2 separate regions of the Homo sapiens genome follow, and region 2 is reported to be linked to region 1. Evidence: microRNA targets listed by miRTarBase, many of them from high-throughput screens and not tested one by one. Region 1 holds a microRNA gene; the other region holds the end of a gene's coding sequence.
The links. Region 1 holds the annotated microRNA hsa-miR-296-3p (GAGGGUUGGGUGGAGGCUCUCC, at 5,251-5,272, shown strand). A microRNA usually pairs through its seed, bases 2 to 8, with sites in the 3' UTR of a target mRNA and lowers its output. Matches are read on the target gene's strand: a 7mer-m8 pairs with bases 2 to 8, a 7mer-A1 pairs with bases 2 to 7 and ends in A, and an 8mer does both.

Region 2: the mRNA of NAT14 is a reported target of hsa-miR-296-3p. The part of its 3' UTR that is shown has no 7-base or 8-base seed match.

The regions. Positions count from the first base shown.
Region 1 is chr20:58,813,575-58,822,897 of GRCh38, reverse strand. MIR296 (microRNA 296) reads left to right here and starts at 5,204; the gene lies at 5,204-5,283. It overlaps MIR298 (microRNA 298), which reads left to right and starts at 4,585; the gene lies at 4,585-4,672. It also overlaps GNAS-AS1. RefSeq lists an enhancer at 9,203-9,323.
Region 2 is chr19:55,485,091-55,494,413 of GRCh38, reverse strand. It overlaps NAT14 (N-acetyltransferase 14 (putative)), which reads right to left and starts at 9,226. Exons shown (of 3, transcript NM_020378.4): 1 at 9,156-9,226; 2 at 8,634-8,753; 3 at 6,848-8,006. The coding sequence starts at 8,705. The coding sequence ends at 7,458. It overlaps SSC5D (scavenger receptor cysteine rich family member with 5 domains), which reads right to left and starts at 5,978. Exons shown (of 14, transcript NM_001144950.2): 1 at 5,800-5,978; 2 at 5,382-5,408; 3 at 4,752-5,060; 4 at 4,419-4,532; 5 at 4,006-4,116; 6 at 3,334-3,642; 7 at 502-819. The coding sequence starts at 5,824. RefSeq lists an enhancer at 8,587-8,916 and a silencer at 9,017-9,323.

The DNA of each region.
Region 1 (9,323 bases):
CCTAGGTCGGGAACACGTAGGGAGCAGAGCTGGTGGTTCAGGGCCCTGTTGTGGCATCAGAGAGATGTGAGCGCTAACCTCAGCACCCTGCTTTCCACTCCGGGGCCTTGGGGCGACTTATTTATCTGCCAAGGCAGTTTCCTGACTTCAGGGAAGGGGCCAGGAGAGAATTAAGTAAGAACAAGCAGCACCTGACACTCAGAAAAGTGTCCCTAAATGTTCGCCACCTTTATTAATAGTACAAATTAATGGGTGACCAGCCTCCATTGTGGGATGGAGCCGGAAGCTGCTCTCCAGGCCTGCTCTCACCCAGATACATGGTATGTTTCGACCACACAGGAGTTCTTTTAAGGATGAATGATGATGACCGCCAACGTTTAGGTGTCCGCAGATTTTACAGAAGCCTTTGGCCATTTGACTTCTCCTGGTCTAGTGGAGCCTCTAGTTTTCTGGGGCCTGCCTCTTCCTGTCCATAGACAACCGTAGCTGGGGTGCGGCCGCCCCCTTTCGGCCAGCAGCACACACACCCCTGTGCCTGCCACCACTTGTGCCTGTCACTCATCTCTGAGTGGGGCCTGGCCTCCTTAGGCATTTGCACTTGTTCTCCCTGCAGTAAAGTGGAGCTATTATTATCTTATAAGAAACAAGGGTCATCATCAGAATTGGGCAGGGACCCAGCAACTGAGTTCTGGCCGGGGCCTCCTTGCCTTTGCTGTGACATTGGTCTGGAAGACCTGGGCTGATGGATGAGCATTGAATGGCCGGGTCTGGGGAGCCATCATGGCTGCCTGCCTTCCTCCTGGTGGGCCCCTTAGTAAGCTGAGCAGAAACACAAAATGGCTAGGGCAGTTACCATAGCCACTTAACGTCTGTGCATCCCTCGGCCTCCCTCATTCTCGTCGGGATAGGGATGACTTAGGAAAGCCAGAGGAGGCCCAGGCTGCTATGAAACCTGGGCCTTGCTTTTCAGCACAAGGATTTCAAGAGGAGAGGAGGTGAGGGAGGAGGGGAGTTTCTGTTGGGGCTGTTGTGGGCCTCAGGCGGCCCCTGAGTTAATCCGTATTCGTATTCAGAATTCCCTCCTTTTCCTTAGTGGGTCAGAGTTCTCTCTTGCTCATCCAGGCCTCAGAGAAGAATCCATGGTAGTTGTGACCACAGCTAGGCCTTAACTCCTTCAGAGCCATGTACATGAAGGCTCAGAAGATCCCCTCATCTTCTGAAGAAGTGTGAGTCTCCTCCTGTAGGCTTCCAAGGGACGCTAGGGTTAGCCATACTTGCACAGCCTGCCCCACACTCAGGCTTCTTGGCACAGAGAAGCCCTTCCTCTTACTGATTTATGGTGCCTACCATGTTCTAGGCATTAGAGAAATGCATTAATTTACTCTTCATAGCAAACATATGGGAAAACTGAGGTACGCACAGGTCAGATAGCTTGCCCAAGGCCACACAGCAGGAAAATCGTGGAGTCCGGATTTGAACTCCAGTGGCTGGTCAGGCTCCAGAGGTCGCCTTTCAAATGCTGCCTGGAAAATGATGGAGCTGATGGAGGAGTCCGAGGTGATGGCTCTGGTGAGTCAGGAGCCTGCCAAGTCACAGGAGCTGGGGAAAGAGCACACTGGACAGAGGGGACAGCCAGTGGAAGGGCCCTGAGGTGGGAAAGAGCTGGCCATGAGCTGTAGGGAAGCAGGAAACCAGTCTGGCTGCAGGAAGTGAGCAGGGGCCAGGGAAGGAGCTGGGGTAGCTGAGGAGGCAGCACCATAAGGGCAGCCCACGGCCATGGCACTGGGGTCTGATTGCAAGTGCAGCGGGAAGCCCTGAGGCTTCTGAGCAGGGCCCTGCTGGCTTGAAGGTCTCCCTGACTAGGAGATGGGATTCTTGTGGCAAGAAGAGAGCGGGGAGAGCAGGAGCTGAGCTGCCCCACATTGGGTAGCTGGGGTCTTTTCACTGAAGGGGATCTGATATGGTTTGGCTCTGTGTCCCCACCCAGATCTCATCTTGAATTGTAACTCTCACAATTCCCACGTGTCATGGGAGGAACTGGGTGGGAGGTGATTGAAGTATGGGGGTGGGTCTTTCCTGTGCTGTTCTCATGATAGCGAGTCTCATGAGATCTGATGGTTTTAAAAAACGGGAGTTTGCCTGCGCAAGCGCTCTCTCTCTTTGCCTGCTGCCATCCATGTAAGATGTGACTTGCTCCTCCTTGCCTTCTGCCATGATTGTGGGGCTTCCCCAGTCACATGGAACTGTAAGTCCAATTAAACCTCTTTCTTTTGTAAATTGCCCAGTCTCAGGTTTGTTTTTATCAGCAGTGTGAAAACGGACTAATACAGGGTCCATCTGGGAGAGGCTGCCTTTCTCTGAGGCCTCTGGCTTGGCAGTGTAGAGAAGGTTCACTAGTGCTTCTGGAATCTTCCTTGGCCCTTTGGGACTCAGCCTATAGTCAGAGCTGGTTCCTTAGGCCTTAGGTGGGGCACCCTTGGAGAGCTCCCTCGGGTAGGTGTCCAGGTGCCAGGTATGGCTCCGGTTACTGTGGTGCCTCCCTCCCTTCGTCTACCTGGTGCTTCTAGAGGCTCGGCTCAGCCTCGTCTTGGCAGCTGGGCCAGGAGGCAGGGCTCTGTGGGTTTCCCATGTATATTTCTTGATAGGTGAGAAAGTGAGCCCCACCTGTGTGGCTCAGCGGTCAGCACCTAAGGCCGCATCTCCAGTTCCACGACAGAAACACCAGGTCATGTGCATGGGTGGCTGGCGCACACCATCAACACCGTGAAGGCATCTCTTTGCCATTCCTGGTGCCCCCACTGGAGCGGGCGTCTGAACTCTGGAGATTGAGAACCTGGGGGCTCTGGTGGGGCACAGAGTGCCCAAGCCCCTCCCCACTAGATGGCACGGCCGCAGAGGCAGTACGGATGAGCATTCAGCACCCCTTTTCTGGGAGGGTCACCTGGGGCGGGGTGCGAGGACCCCTTTGCCCTGGGCACCTGTTGGACCTGAGTCCGGGTCCCAGCTGTTCTACCTCACACTGAGGTCGTGGTCACCTGTGTGGGTCTGGGTTTTTTGTCCGTGACAAAGGTTGGGACCAGAGGTAGATGGGTTTGCCTGCTCTATTGTTTCATGATGGAAACAATCCTGGTTGGTTGCCTGGTTTCTGCTTGGGTTCCCATTCCTTGCCCCGGCCCTACAGGATCAGTGGAGCACCATAGCCCTGCCTCCTTTCTCTGGCCAGCCAGAGGGCTTCAGAAAAGGCTTATCTAAGCCTGGCTTCTTGCCCTCTGTTCTTGAGGGCCCTGAAGAATTTGACTCTGGCAGATGGCTTCTCTCAGATCAGACACAAAGGCCTTGGAGATTGGGACTCCACACCCATTTCATTGAAACCTGCTCTCCCCCCATCAGAAAAAGGGCCATGTTTTCAAAACCATAACTGCTTCTCTCTTAAATCAACAATAAACAACAGCCTAAAGATTGCCCGTGAAAGTAAGTTCCACTGATGGCCGTTCTGGCCGTTGGAAGCAAGATATCAAGTTGGAGTGTGACCGCAGGCGATCATGCCGCAGGTGAGTGTGTGTGCGCCTGGTTTCATTTCTGTTGTTAATCCTTTGCCCTGTTTTTCTCTTTGTTTTTATTCCAAACCTGTCTGCTCCCAAGGGTCCCTGTCTGCTTCCAAGGGTCCCTGGAACCTTCTGCAGCTGTGCCTCTCCAGAGCTCCGCCTCATTAGTGCCACGTTCCTGGTTTGAAAACCATAGTACTTCAACCTCTTCTAGATGGGAGTTAACCTTTGCCCTCTGAAAGAAAGGTTTGATAAGCAAAGAGAGTTTGGTGAGCAAGATCCTTGAGGTAAGAGCTGATCTCTGACGTCCGCTGGGAACTGGCTGCTCTGCAGGTTTCTGTATCACATTTTCTGCACATGTCCATTAGAATTGGAGATGGGGCGTATCTAGTGTTGAATAAAGGCCCGGCAGGCCCTCCCAGATGCACCCTGTCAGACAGAGCCTACTGTGGATTCTTTAGAAATGGCTTGACTCATTCTTGGTGGCGACCACACCACCCACAGGCACCTAAAATGAAAGGATTTTTGTTAGCTGGTTACCACCAAACCACCTCAGGCAATACGTGGGAGACTCCAAACCAGCTGCTGTTAAAAAAAAAAAAAAGGCAGCAGAGCAGTCATAGAACAGACCCTTCTTACTGCTGCATACAAGATGATCCCATGGAATGCAGGCAGCCACAGCTTTGTCCACATGTGCTCTGTGTATCTGGGGCTGCTAGGCTGGTTAGATTTGTGGTCTTCTTCCTCCTGTGGAGGACCCTAGAGAGAGCCAGCCTGAGCCCTCACCGTTGTTCCTTCCCCGGCAGCACTTACAGAATGATCCTCTAAGACCTCCCCTCCAGCCCTAGCTGGGTTCCTAATTTTCCAGCTATTTAATATCTTCTTTATGTCTCAGTGAATGTTCCCAGGCAGAGTAGCCAGACAGACTCATACTGACAGTTCTCAACAGCCAGTCCCATCCTCCTAAAGATCTCCAGAATCAGCCACATGGACCTGATGCTAGAGGCCTGTCAGCACTGGGGGACCCGGGAGAAGCAGCTCAGGTCTTCAGCAGAAGCAGGGAGGTTCTCCCAGTGGTTTTCCTTGACTGTGAGGAACTAGCCTGCTGCTTTGCTCAGGAGTGAGCTGCCGGCTCCCCTTTGATGTGCTGCGTCTGTTCAGAACTAGGCAGGGGTGCTTCACCGTGGCAGCACTTGAGTTAGGCAGTGGTTCATGGACTCTTCTCCCAGGGCCCCACACAAAACACTGTTAGCACAGACCTGCCACTCAGATCAAGGTGGCCAGCAGAGCCATCAGAGAATAGCCTTCAGAAGATGAATGGCAAGGCCAGCCGGCAGCACGTGAGGCCAGGGCAGAGACGCAGTGAACCGTTCCATGGCGCCCCGAGCCTGCTGCCAAGGCCTCCTTGGAGCTGAGATGGAGGCGGGGTGGCTGAGAGGCAAGCTGGATGTGCATGTTTGGGAAGAGGGCTCCGTAGAAAGTGCTGTAGGGGCCTTGGCTGGGGACCACGTGAGCCCTTGTGCGGAGAGGGCCTGTGTCTGTGGATCTGGGGTCCACCACAGGCCACTGAGATGGGACAGGGCTGGGAGGATTGAGGAGGGAAGATCCTGAGTGAAATTGTGAAATCAGGCCCAGCCTCATGTGGGAGGTGAGGAGAAAGGACCCTTCCAGAGGGCCCCCCCTCAATCCTGTTGTGCCTAATTCAGAGGGTTGGGTGGAGGCTCTCCTGAAGGGCTCTGAAGAGCGCTGCACCCGCAGCTGTGTGCCAGGAGTGGAGACAGGACAGTCGATACAAGAGGGGCCCCTGTCATGTCAGCTGCTGAGTCCCCTGGGGCGGCCGGGCACTGGGGAATGGTGAACTCGCCGTGCCGCGCCTCTGCCACAGTCTCCCGTGGGTCCCCACTGCCGGGAGTTTTACCTACCTCCCACCCTCAGCCACGAGCACCTGCAGGATGCGGTGCCATCCTCGCCGGTGCCCGCTCCCCTTCCGGAGGCTCTCTCCACCCTCACTGACGCCTCCTCGGGAAAGCCCCCGCTCCTTCCCCGACCTCACAGCATGCCAGGTCTGGGGCTTCCGCTGGGGGGCTTACCTGTTTTCCACCCCTGCTAGACTGGGAGCTCCAGGGCAAGGCCGTAGCTGCCTTGCGGATTGTTACGTTGTCCAGCTTGTCTCCACACGTGATACCCAGCAGGTGCCTAATAAACTTGTGTAGAAAGAGTGGTGGATGTTTGCTCTTGTATTTACTCTTCATAGAGCCCAGCTCTGCTTGCTAGAGTCCTCGAAGCAAGTGCGCAGTGTCTGACGGTCTTGGGTTGCTTCTGACTCATGGTGGCTGCTTGGGGGTCATGCTGGAAACATGGCACCCTCAACTCCTGCGTGGAACCAGTTGCCCCCACTGTGATTCCTCTTGCTGCGGCTGGCCCTGCCTTCATGGCATTAGCGCAGCGGGGAGTTGCGGGCTCACTGTCTTAACACCTGTCTCCCCCACCAGACTAAACCCCAAAGGGCAGAACTCTCTCATACACTTAGGACGGAGCAGGTCTCAGGTTATTGCTGGACGGACCAATGGATGAGTGGATGGACAGAGCAAAAAGATGAAAAGACAGGAAGGCAACTGGGGTGTGACAGGCAGGGTGGCCTGACGCTCCCTGTGTGGACAAGACTTGGTGGGAGGTGCCGGGCATGGCTAGGAGGACTTGGGGTGCAAAGTGTCCCCACATCTGTCCTGAGGGCAGAAGCAAGGGTGAGCCTCCCTCCTGCTAGAGCTGGCGGAGTCTCCAAAATAGAGTCCGGACCTGCAGGAACAGTGGCCCTTCCCAGTGCAAGAACGTCACTCAGAGTTGAAAGTTCTGGGGTCTCAGGGACCCCTGAAGTCCATTCTTGAGCCCTTCCCGTGGCTGTGGCCTCCCCTTAGGCAGGGGAAAGGGGGCCAGTGGGGAGCTTCCCCAGGGGCCTCTCTGCAGGAGGCCGCTGGGCACATGGTGGCCCCGCGCTGGGCGCTGTCAGCAGAAGTGCCTGGATCCAGACCCTGGTGGAGACAGCAGGCCAGGAAACCAGTGGCCCCTCTGCCCCCCACTGGGGCCCCATGAGTTACACCAGCCAGGCCCCACAGCTGAGGTACCAGGCGGAAAAGGCCTTGTGTGAATGGGGCAAGAGGCCAGGGGCGCTGGGGAAGGCCAGGAAGAGAGCAGAGAGGCCTTCACTCACACGCAAGCGCACGCCCCAGGGGCTCAGGCCTTGAGACATAGCTTGAGGTGGGGGTGTGGGGGGCTCCCTGCTTGTTCCCGCTAAGGCTGGCACCCCAGCCCTCTCTTTTGGGTGTCCCCATGCCTGGGCTGTGCCGTAGCACAGTTCATGGGAGCCCTGCCCCCAGGCCCTGCAGCCCTCACTGCCCCCAGCCCTGCTGCAGGGTTGGCCTCCCTTCTGTCACCCCACCTGCCACTCGCCCCTCTGTCTCGGGAAAACCCACTGTGATTCCTTTCCAAGGCTGACCTTCCTTCTGGTGGCTTCTGCCCCATTCCAGCTCCCCTTTCCCCATGGGATCATTAGACACCGAGCCCTCCCGAGGGCCCAGCCATGTGGGTGGAACACGGCAGTCACAGAAGAGGGAAGAGCCCTTTCTGCATGGAGCTTGCTTCTGGAGGGGAGAGACAGACCACCAACAGGAAGTGGGTGGGCTGTGTCGTGTGTGGAAAAGCGGCATGCTGGGAAATGAAGCGGGGCAGGGGAGCAGCAGCGGCTCTCCCAGGCTTCCCTCCTGCGGCATCTGTGCACCCCAGGCCTTCACCCTAGCACTGCTGACCTTCAGGGCTGCTTCCATCCCTGGTGGGGGCCGTCCTGGGGATTATAGAGTGTTCAGCAGCTCCCCGAGCTAGATGCTAGGAGCCACCACCACCAACGCCAAAAAAAGATAGATGCATTTGCCACCTGGCTGGTTGCTCTCTGTAAACGTGAGCTAAACTGCTGGCCCAGGATCGTTGACATAGAGAAAATCTGTGACTTCCCGGGAGTCCTGGTGATGTGTGATGTGTCGCTTAATACAGAGTCTGGTGGATAGAGAAAGACTTGTCTCCATAGGTGTGCAGAGAGGGTTAGTATATGCCCTTTTATTGCCTGGTTCTTTCCAGGGGCTCCCAGAGGACCTTGAAGCAGTGAGGCCACCCAGGCCTTAGTTGGTGGCGCCATTCTCCCATAAAAGGAACCAGGCTTTTGGTGAAAATCGCTTATTCTGGCTGAGCATGGTGGCTCGTGCCTGTAATCCTAGCACTTTGGGAAGCTGAGATGGGCAGATCACTTGAAGCCAGGAGTTCAAGACCAGCCTGGCCAACATGGTGAAACCCCCATCTCTACTAAAAATACAAAAGTTAGCTGGCCGTGGTGGTGCATGCCTGTAGTCCCAGCTACTCGGGAGGCTGAGGCACAAGAATTGCTTGAACCCAGGAAGTGGAGGTTGCAGTGAGCTGGGATTGCACCACTGCACTCCAGCCTGGGTGACAGAGACCCTGTTTCAAAAAAAAAAAAAAGACTTATTCTTTGGTTGGAGCAAAGACTGCGAGGTGAGCCTGGAGCATCATGTGGTGTCAGGAAGGAAGTACCCCAGCAATGGCGGCAGGTTTCAGGGACACAGGAGCTGACAGAAGGAGCTCCCAAGGGTCACAGCTGGGACATGGGACTAGCAAAGCAGAACTGGACTGTGACCCAATGCATAGAATATCCACAGGTCCAGACTGATATAAATCATTCAATAAGTAGATGGAAGAGACAAATCTCTTGCACAGAATAATTCCAAATAATTCCGGTAGATACTTCCCCTCAAGGAGATAGAACGTAGCTCCCCACCCCTGAAGTATGCACAGTGCTTAGTGACTTGCTTCCAAAGAGTACACATTGAAGGTGGGAAACGGTCTTCACTGAGGAGAAACCTGGGCAGCTGTGTCTTAGCCAGCTGGAGGCCCGTGTCATCAGGGATCCTCCTGTGCCTAATACATACCCTGGATACCACATGGTCTTCCTTCCCCAACTGCATCATCCCAATGTAACCATGAACCAAACATCAGATCACCCGAATTGTGGGACAATCTACAAAATACCTGACTGGCACTCCTCAAAATGGTCAAGGTTATCAAAATCAAGGAAAAGCTGAGAGACTCAGCCAAGCCTGGAGGAGCCTCAGGAGATGTGATGATGAAATGTCACGTAGGCTTCTGGATGGAGTCCTGGAGCACAGAGAGGGCATTAGGGAGAAGCCAGTGATGTCTGCACACTGCGCGGGCTTCAGGCAATACTGTTCATTCGTGGTGACAAATCACATGGCAGTATAAGTGGTAGAACCTGGGTGTTGGAGACACAGAAGCTCGGCACTAGCTTTTCAACTTTTCTGTAAATCTAAAAGTTTAAAATAAAAAGTTTATTTAAAGTGTGTGTGTGTGTGTGTGAGATATAAACAGTTGTGACCCAGCACTCATGAGCTAGGAGTGGTGCAGGCAGACTCTAAACAGAGAAACGGAGGCATCACGCCTTCTGGGAGAGATTGGTGCTACAGAAAAAAACAGGGCTGTGAAATTGCAGCCTGCCCCCAACACCCTCACACCTGATGCTCTGATCTCCCACATGTGAGCCAGGGGAAGAGGAGAGCAGCAGGCAAGGTCAGAGAAGGTGAGTCCCCTGTGGGCCATGGGAGGGACACAGAGATAATGCCCCTCCACCTACATGGTGGGGACATTCTGGGATGAAGGGGTATGGGGGAACATAGCTGCATGTGGAGTGTGTGCACACGT
Region 2 (9,323 bases), not on the chromosome of region 1:
GGAACAGAGAGAGCAGAGGGCATGGTAGCTTAGGGGTGGCAGAGAAGCGGGGGGTGACCTTATGCAGAGGAGAAGGCTGGCTTCCGCCGGGGGCCAGGAGGCAGGGCCAGCCAGGGCTGCCACGGGGCTGAGGCTCATCCTCGCCTCTGTTTCCATTTGGGGCTGGACTGTTCTCAGCTGTGGAGGCGGCCTGTGCACTGCAGGATCCTAAGCAACACCCCTGGCCTCTAACCCCTGGGTGCCAGGAGCACCCCCACCCCCAGCTGTGACCATCAAAAATGTTTCCAAACACTGTCCAATGTCCCCTTGGGGGCAAAGCCACCCCCAGCTGAGAACCAGTGACGCAGGGTGAGGATTCAGAGGGGAATAAGATGGGGGAGTGGAAAGTCCGGAGAGAGGGCAGGAAGGGCGCGTAGGGACCCCCCCGCCCCCGCCGAACTTGCCCCTCCGCTCCAAGCACCACCACGCCCACCTCCCGGTCCTCCACCACAACCCCCTCACCGTCACACACGGCCCCGGCGTCCTCGCGGTGGTGACAGTCATGCTGGCCCCAGGGCCGAGCTGGGCAGAATCGTAAGGCCGTCTCGTTTCCCCGACACCGAAGGTCGTCCAGGATGATGGGTCCAGACCCCTCCCCAAAGAAGGCGCCCCCGGGGGCGGCCAGCGCCCCTCCGCAGCCCAGCTCTCGGCAGGCCACAGCGGCGTCTCGCAGGTCCCAGGCGTCGTCACACACCGACCCCCAGCGACCCCCGTGCCAGACCTCCAGGCGGCCGGCGCACCCGTGGGGGCCATCGGCCAGGCGCAGCCGAGGTGCTGGGCCTGGATAGTGGGAGAGGGAGCACAGGGCCAGGAAACGAGGGTGGATGAGCGGGGACTAAGCTATGCTCAGGCAGGCTGCAACCCCAAGATGACTCTGGGAAGCAAATATTCCATCTTCACTATCCAAATGAGGAAAAGGTTCCAAGACAGGAAGTCACTGGCCCGGAGTCCAACTCTGGCGCATCCCCCATATCCCTTGCCTTGGGGCGGTGGGGGCTGGGGACGCTGGGAGCTCTGGCTCTGGTCCCCTGGATCCACCTCCCATGCCTGGCCCCTCGGATCCTAGAGAGCCGGATTTCCAAGTCTCAGCACCACTGGCATTGGGCATCCTCCTTTATCGTGGCAACTGTCCTGCACTGCATCCTCTACCCACCACATGCCAGTGGCAACCCCTCCCCCTAGCTGCGACAACCAAAAACGTCTCCAGACATTGCCTGATGTCCTTTGGGGAGGAAGGGGATGAGAAAGCCCTCACTCCCTTGCCAGCTGAGAGCCACTAGTCTAGATATTAACCTCTCGCTGGCCTTAGGATACATAGGGTACATTTCATTTTTTTATTTTTGGGGGGAGGGGATCTCACTATGTCACCCAGGCTGGAGTGCAATGGTGCAATCTTGGCTCACTGCAGTCTCGACCTCCTGGACCCAAGGAATCCTCCCCGCCTCAGCCTCTCCCAAGTAGCTGGGACTACAGGCATGCGCCACCATGCCCTGCTATTTTTTTTTTATTTTATATTTTGTAGGGAAAGGGTCTCACTATGTTGCCCAGACTGGTCTTGAACTCCTGGCCTCAAGAAATCCTCCCAAAGCACGTGGGCTACAGGTGTTAGCCTGTAACCATGCCTGGCTCTTCGGGTACATTTCTGTTGGGGTAAGAGTTGACTCATCATTGGAGGACTCTGGAGTCCCTCTCTCTGTCCCCCAACGAGGCAGGTGCAGAATTGCCCCCAATCACTGTTCTAGAGAAGAGCACAGAACTAGGGAGGAGTCTAACACACCTGTCTGCTTTTCCTCATCTGCAGACAGGGGAGGGGAGCGTCTCCCTCCCGGGGTTGCCATGAGAATTAAATCAGATGCTGGCGAAGCTCCCAGCTTCACCGGGCGCCTTAGTTCATTTGTTTCCTTTCTTGGCACCTTCACCCTCTCCTCTCCAGAGCCTCAACTTCCCTCCAATGAACTCTGCTCCGAAGGTCCCACTTCTTCCCCCACAGCTTGTACACTAGGCACACGAAGGCACCACCCCCACCCCATACAAGCCTTCTCTGCTGCTCACTCCCACTCTGACCTCCGTGTCCCCACCACGTCCCTATGGCCGACTGTGCAGTGGGACAGGCATGGAGCGTGGGTCTATACAGACCCAGAGGGGTCAGCGGCTGGGGCTGGAGCTTGCTAGGCACCTGGGTCTTGGGCCATTTACGTCACCTCTCTGAGCCTCGGCCCCACATCTGTGAAGAGAGGGATGAGGATCCACCCCGTCCGGGCTGCGGGAGGCTCAGAGCGGCCCCAGGTAACGTGCACAGCGCAGGGCCCAGCATACAGCAGAGACTAGGGTCAGCCTCTTTCTCTCTTCTCTCCCCCCTGGATACCCACTGATGTCAGCATTTCCTACCCATCCTGGGCAGGCACCCAGCTTTGCCTGCAGCCCGTGTACTGTCCCCACCCCAACGCTGATGAAATGCCAGGTGGGTGCCCTCTGCCTGCCGGCCTCCTACAGTCAATGGATCGGGCAGTCCAGCAGGGTGGGGCCTGCCGTGGTGGTGTGTAAAGATTTGTGGAAGGAAAGAAAGGAAAGAGAAAGGGAAAGAGGGAGGAAGGAAGGAAGGAGAGAAGGAGGGAGGGAGCCCCTGAGCTCTCACCTAACACCCCCCAACCGCTGTTTGCTGGGTTCTATCCCAGGTCCAAGGGGTACAGGAGAGGGGAGGGACCCCCTGGGAGACATGAGGGGAGGAGACCCCGCGCTGAGGGGGCGTGAATGAGGGGAGATGGAGGCTCACCCGTGGGTGTCCCCACCCTGCCTCAGTCTCCCTCCATGCCCCCAAGTCACCGCCCTCCCTCCCTCCTTCCCACCAGCTCCCTTGAGGATGGGGAAGGAGCAGAGGTTGGCCACAGAGACAAGAGGTCTCCGAGACGGTCCCCTGCCATGGCCAGCCCGGTGGCAGAGGGCAGGCAGGGCTTCTTGCGTTCCAGGACTTGGCTCAAGCCTGAGGCAGGCATTCTTAGCTCCATCGCTCCTTCAGGAAAACTGAGGCTTAAACAAACGGTCACTGGCCTAGGCCCCGGGACAGGGCTGAGCACTAGCCCAAGCCTCAAGCCTGCTCCTCCCATTCCTGGCAAGGAGAACGGCAGGAGCTGTGGAAGGAGGGGCTGGAGAGCGTGGTGAGTGGGCGCTGGGCATGCAGAGAGCAGGCGGGCAGGAGGCAGAGCTGGGAGCAGGCCCGCTGCAGCTTCCTGGAGGGGCAAGAGGGAGCTGGGGTCTGAGGAAGACAGGAGGGGGCCAGGCCCCAGCCCGACGTACCGGTGCAGACCAGCCCCGCATCCTCGCTGTGGTCACAGTTGCTCCGGCCCCAGGGGCTTCGGGGGCAGTCTCGGAGGGCCTGTTCTCCTCCTCCACACCCCACATCGTCCATCCACACGGGCCCTGCACCAGGCCCGAATCTGGCACCGCCGGGGGCAGCCAGCGCCCCCCCACAGCCCAGTTCCCGGCAGGCTACAGCAGCGTCGCGCAGGTCCCAGCCATCGTCACATACGGTGCCCCAGCGCCCGCCGTGCCAGACCTCCAGGCGTCCGGCGCACCTGTGGGGGCCAGAGACCAGGCGCAGCCGCTCTGTGGGGTGAGCAGGGAGGGGACGGTGTGGCCAGTGAGAAATGATTCAAACACCCCTTCCTCGATTTCCACCTGGGGAAACAGGCCTGAGGGAGCGGTGGCCTGAGATCTGTCCGCCGGCAGCCCGTGAAGAGGTGAGTCCACGACCTGAGCGGGCCAGGACACCTGGGCCTCCTGACAGGGCAGGAAGAAGAGGGGAGACCAGGCCTGGCCGTCTAAATCCCCGGGGGAGGGACGCGGGGAACACTGGGATCCCTCCAGGGCCCCGGCTAAGGAGAGGGCGCCCGCAGGTCCTCAGTTTTTCTGGGCCCTGGGCCTCACAGCAACCAGCCTTGGGGTCGGGGGAGCCTGCAGGGAGCTTACCTTGGCGGGGGGCTCCTGTCGTCAGCAGAGGGGCCCGGGTGGACTTGGCCTGCTTGGGCCGGGGGCTCTTCTTCCGGGAGGCGTTCTGGGGGTTCCCAGCTGGGCGGGGGGCTGGGAGTGGAGACAGCCAGGGGTCAGGAGCTGAGCCCCTCATCCTTCCTCCCACCTGGGGGCCCAGGCCTCCGTCTCTGAGGGTCTGAAGTGATGGAGGACTCCCTAGGCTATGAAGGAGACGGGGCGGGGCAGGGGGCGGGCTGTGTGTCCCCTGGGAGTTCATACTGCAGAGGTCCCTCTCCCCTCGGTGGGGGCAGGAGGGCACGCTGGGTGGGGGTTGGCAGGGCAGTCCCTCTCCCCTCGGGGGGGGCAGGAGGGCACGCTGGGTGGGGGTTGGCAGGGCAGTCCCCTGGGCTCACCATGTGTCACCAGGGGCTCCTCCGTGCTGGGGCTCAGCTCCAGCAACAGCCCTGGCCAGGGAGCCCCATCCAGGGGAGATGTTGAGTCGTCCCTGGAGTTAGCCACACGCTGACCTGCGGCGGGGGGGCAGGGACAGAAGCTATGAGGAGAGGAGGGGAATCCAGGCCATTTGGGTCCCTGGAAGAGGGAGTTAGCCACCTGGCTTTGGAGGGGATGGGAGGTTGGGTGTCTCTGAACTGCTGAACACTCAGACTTGCTGGGGCTAAGGACTTGGGGTTCCTGGGTCATCTCCAAAGGAGCTCCCCCTGAAGGAGCAGCCAGGGTGTCCTCACCTGCGCAGACGACGCCCGCGTCCTCCTCGTGGGAGCAGATGTGGGCCTTCCAGCCCCGGTGGTGGCAGAGGCCCAGCTGCCCCTCGTTGCCCCGGCAAGCCAGCTCGCTGAGCCACACAGGCCCTGCCCCCTCCCCGAAGAAGGCGCCTCCCGGGGCGGCCAGTGCCCCTCCGCAGCCCAGCTGCCGGCAGGCCACGGCGGCATCGCGCAGGTCCCAGCCGTCATCACACACGGTGCCCCAGCGCCCGCCATGCCAGACCTCCAGGCGGCCAGCGCACCCATGGGGGCCATCGGCCAGGCGCAGGCGCTCTGAGGGTTGGAGGAATGGCTGTGACTGGGGAGGGGCATCCTGGGGGCCCCAAGGCCAGGGCAACTGTAGGGGCAGGTGGCTGTCCTGCAGGTACTGTCTGTAGGCCAGTGGCCCTGCTCACTGGCCCCTGGGCCCAGACTCCTGGGTGCTCAGAGAGATGCGGCCAGACACCTGGGGGATTCCCTTGCGGAGCTGGGGCCAAGGTCACAGTGGAATTCGGATGGGCCGGGGACCCAGTGGGGGTGAGGCCAGGCCTGGATGGGCAGAAGGGGGAGGCCTGGGGGGGGGGGCGGGCAGATGGGAGGAGTCTGGGCACTTACCAACAGCCTGGATCCCCACCAGGGCCGCTGGAAGGGAGGGCGGAGGGTGGGGCAGTGTGAGGGGCAGGCCGGGGGTGGCCCTTTCTCCAGCGCAGGCCCCTCATCTTGAATACCCCAACACACACACACACACACACACACACACACACACACACACACATGGGCTTGGCTAAAGGTCAGATGTCTGGGAGATCCCCCGCAGGGTCAGGGCTGGGGGGCGGGCAGGGGGCAGGTCCCTTGGGCTTCTGGGCTGGCAGAAGGCTGGGCAGATTGAGCAGGGATCCTCAGAAGGGATGTCAGGGTATGCAGGAGCACCAGCGACCAGTCCCGGAAGTTTGAGTCCCTAAACTGGACAAGCTAAGGGGTCAGAGGTGGGGGCCTAGGCCCCCCGAGTCCCCAAGGAGAATGGATCACTCACCAAGGAGGCAGGCCAAGACCCTCATGGTTGCAGCCAGGGCAGGGGATGGGGTGAAAGGGGAAGGAGAGCGGGGAGAGAAGAGGAGGAGGCAGCTGGGGAGAGAGGGAGGGAGGGAAGTGCCTGCTGGAGGCGCCCAGGCCCGAGGAGGAGCAGGCAGGGCTGGACGCTTTGCCAGGAGGAAGAAAGAGGCTGCAGGGAGGCGGCAGGGGACGGTGGGGGGGAGGGGGGGCGGGAGGGGGCTGGCCGTCTGCTGAGGCATGGGGGGGAGGGGGGTGGCGGGCGGGAGGGAGGGTGTCCAACTGCAGACACCCACACGGGAGATGGAGACGACGGCCAGGCAGGCTCCAGCCAGCAAAGTGCTGTGCCCAGAGATGCTTAGGGGGTGGCCGGCTGCAGGAAGGCACAGGACAGGGGTTGGGGGACGTGTGCGGGGGGGGCGCAGCATGAGCGGGAGGGGCGCCCACCTGCTGTCTCCCCTCTTGTCTGGTCAGGGAAATCCAGTGAGACCACTGCTAGGGTTGGGGGCTGGGCAGACCTGGGGTTCTTGGTGCAGCAGCAAGAAGATTTGCAGCCAGACACCAGGAGGGACTTCCTGGGTTAGGAAAAGAGACTGAAAGACCCGGCCCTCCAGTCCTCCCACTCACTGGTGGATCTGAGTGTGAAGCCCCCAGTCCCCAGCTGAGAGAGGAGAGGTTGAACTTCACTGTCCCAGAGGGAGCTGGGGTCGGGGGATAAGCAGCACAAGGGTCAAGGCTTGGGAAGGGGAGGGGCTCCACACACTCTTCCACACACTCACACACACACACACACACCCCACTGCCTGCACACCAGGCAGCTGTGAGGCGGAAAAAATTCGGTAATGGGGAGCGTGACTCAGAAGGGCTGGCAGGGCCTCGGGCTGCCCCTGAGCTCACAGCCTCCCCTTCTCCCAGTCCAGCACCGTCCCCCAACAATTAATGTTAACTGGGGAAAGGAGAAGCCAGACAGAAATGGGCGGGGGTGTCCGGAGACAGACTGGGAAAGCCATCAGAGAAGAGACAGGCACACAGCGGTTTCAGGCTTTATTAACAAACGGTGTAAAAAACCAGACGGATCTGGAGGAAGGGACAGGGCTGCCCGTCTCAGCTCTCAACCTTCCCAGAGAGGGGCCAGGCCTGGCAGCCCTGTGCGTCGCGCCTCCTAAGCAGTCAACCTTGTCCCCTCCAAGGACAGGCATCTGACCCAATCCAGGTCCCAGGGAGGCGGAGTCGCAAACCCTAACTCTGGGGTGTATTCTGCTCGGCCTCCTCTCCCCCTCCCCAGATAGCTCTCCCAGCCTGGGGCACGGACAGCACAGACTTTGCAGACATCACCCGGGGAGGTTTCTCAGTGCAGACAGGAGCTGAGGTAGGGGTTGGAGAGGCTGACCTCGAGAGGCCCCCGAGGGCCAGGAAGGAAAAGGAGTCATTCCACTCTGAGAAGCTCAAACACAACAGACTTCACACTGCTGACGGGTGGACAGAGGCCAGGCTCCTCCCCTCGGCAGGCCTCTGTTTCTGGGCCCAGGGTGGTTGAGGACTCACTGAGGGAGAGCAGGTAAAAGAACCCGCAGACAGTAGGCGATCATCAGGTGCTGGCGCCCCTCCCTCCTCCCCTGCCCTGGCTGTCAGTCTGTAGCTTCACAGGTCTTTGCTGAATTCCCTCACCAGCGTGTAGCCCAGGCAGCCCCAGCCCCCCTCGGCCTGGTAGCCACAGCCCTCCAGCATCCCTCCCACCCCCCAGGCGGCCACAGCCACGGGGACCACGAGCCGGGCCCGGGGCTCCCCCATGCCCCCAGCCCAGGCCCGAGCCCGGGCCTCCGCGAAGGCCAGCAGCCTCCTGCCCACGCCCCGGCGGCGGTGCCAGCGAGAGACAGACAGGCGGGTGACCCGGGCCCCGTCCCCTGCATTTGTGCCAGGGGCCAGAGCCAGGACCCCACACACGTCACCGGAGCCCCGCACGGCCACCCAGGGGCCCCCCAGGCCACCCGGCGGAGGCAGCGAGCCCCATCGGGCCCGCAGGCCCAGCTTCACGGCGGCCACAGCCAGGAACACCGGCAGGAGGAGGGCCAGGGCGAAGGAAGCCAGGACAAAGCGCAGGCCGCTGCTGGCCGCCGCCAGGAGGAGCAGGGCCGGCGGCCGTGTCAAGGCATGGAGGGCCACGCGGTTTTCCGTGTCCTTCACGCCGGCCTGTGGGCAGGAGGGGTGGCTCAGCCATCCGAAACGCTAGGGCCTCCTGGACAAAGAGAGGAGGTAGACCCTGCCCGGGGCGGGGTGAGAGCTCCCAAATGGGAAGGGAAGGCAGCACAGTCCGATGTTCAGTGTGGCACACTGGGTATGGAGTGAATGAATGAACGAGAGCGAATGATGGATGGATGAGTGAATTAGGAGCTGTGGGGGCACTCAATTCAGTAGCAATGCCGCAGTGAGGCCCCAGGGAAGTAAGGACAGGGAGGTTGCCTCAGGCTGGAGTGGAGGCTGGAGGGAGGCTGCTGGGCTAGGTTGGGGTGCTGGGCTGTGCTTTGAAGAGTTGGGGTCCGAGGCACAGAGCTGGCTGTTGTGCTGGCGTGCACAGCCGACTGGAGATGGGAGACCAGGGAGGGCGTTGGTGCTGGGGTCCCAGTAGGGCTGGGGGGGTGAGCCCCCACCTGCCACACCTGCTGTGGTTTTCAGCAGCAGGGCGGCTGAGGCTCAGGAGGAAAAGATCCCGCTCCAGGGGTCCAGGCTGGCTCAGGTGGGTGGGAGGGGGTGGCTGAATCCACTTGCAATTCCCCCACTGCAGCCACTCCCAGGCCCCCTGGGGCCCCTGCCTCTCACCTTCAGCATCTCCAGCACCAGGGGCTTCTCATCTTCCCTCATCTCCCGCACTGACAGGTGGCTGGGGGCCATGGCAACCCCCAGGCCCCGGCCCCCCAGAAGGGAGCTGGCGTCGTGCACCTGGTGAGAACATAAGTAGGTCAGCGTCAGGGGGGCACCTCTGTCCCCAAAGCTCCCCCGAGGGGTAGGGAGCAGCAACGGCACTTCCCAGATCAGGACACTGAGAACCCTCGGGGCCCCCAAGCGAGGATCTCGGCAGGACAGGCGCCCCCCACAATACTCAGCGACCTTGCTAAAGTCTCCCGGGATCCCCCCTCCCCCGTATTATTCAGCGATCTACACTCCCAAACGCGCTGCGGACGCCAACACTGCAGCACGGGGCTCCCTCCCAGGCACTGGGGTCCACGAACACCCTCCCCACATGCCAGAGAACGGACCACGCTCGCTCCACCCCGGTCCCCAGCGCCCCCTCCCCCACAGTCGTCCCCGTCCCGCGCCACAAGAACAAGGACCAGCAAGCACCTGCACCGGTCGCCTTTGGTCCTTCGACAAGGTTTCGGGAGCGGGTCTGGAAGGGGGTCGCGGGCGGAAGTGACGTCAGACCGCGCGCGGTGGGGCGGGGCGGCGCCCGCTCCGGGCCGTAGCAACCGTTGCTAAGCTCCCCGGAGGGCGGGCTGGGAGGAACCGAGC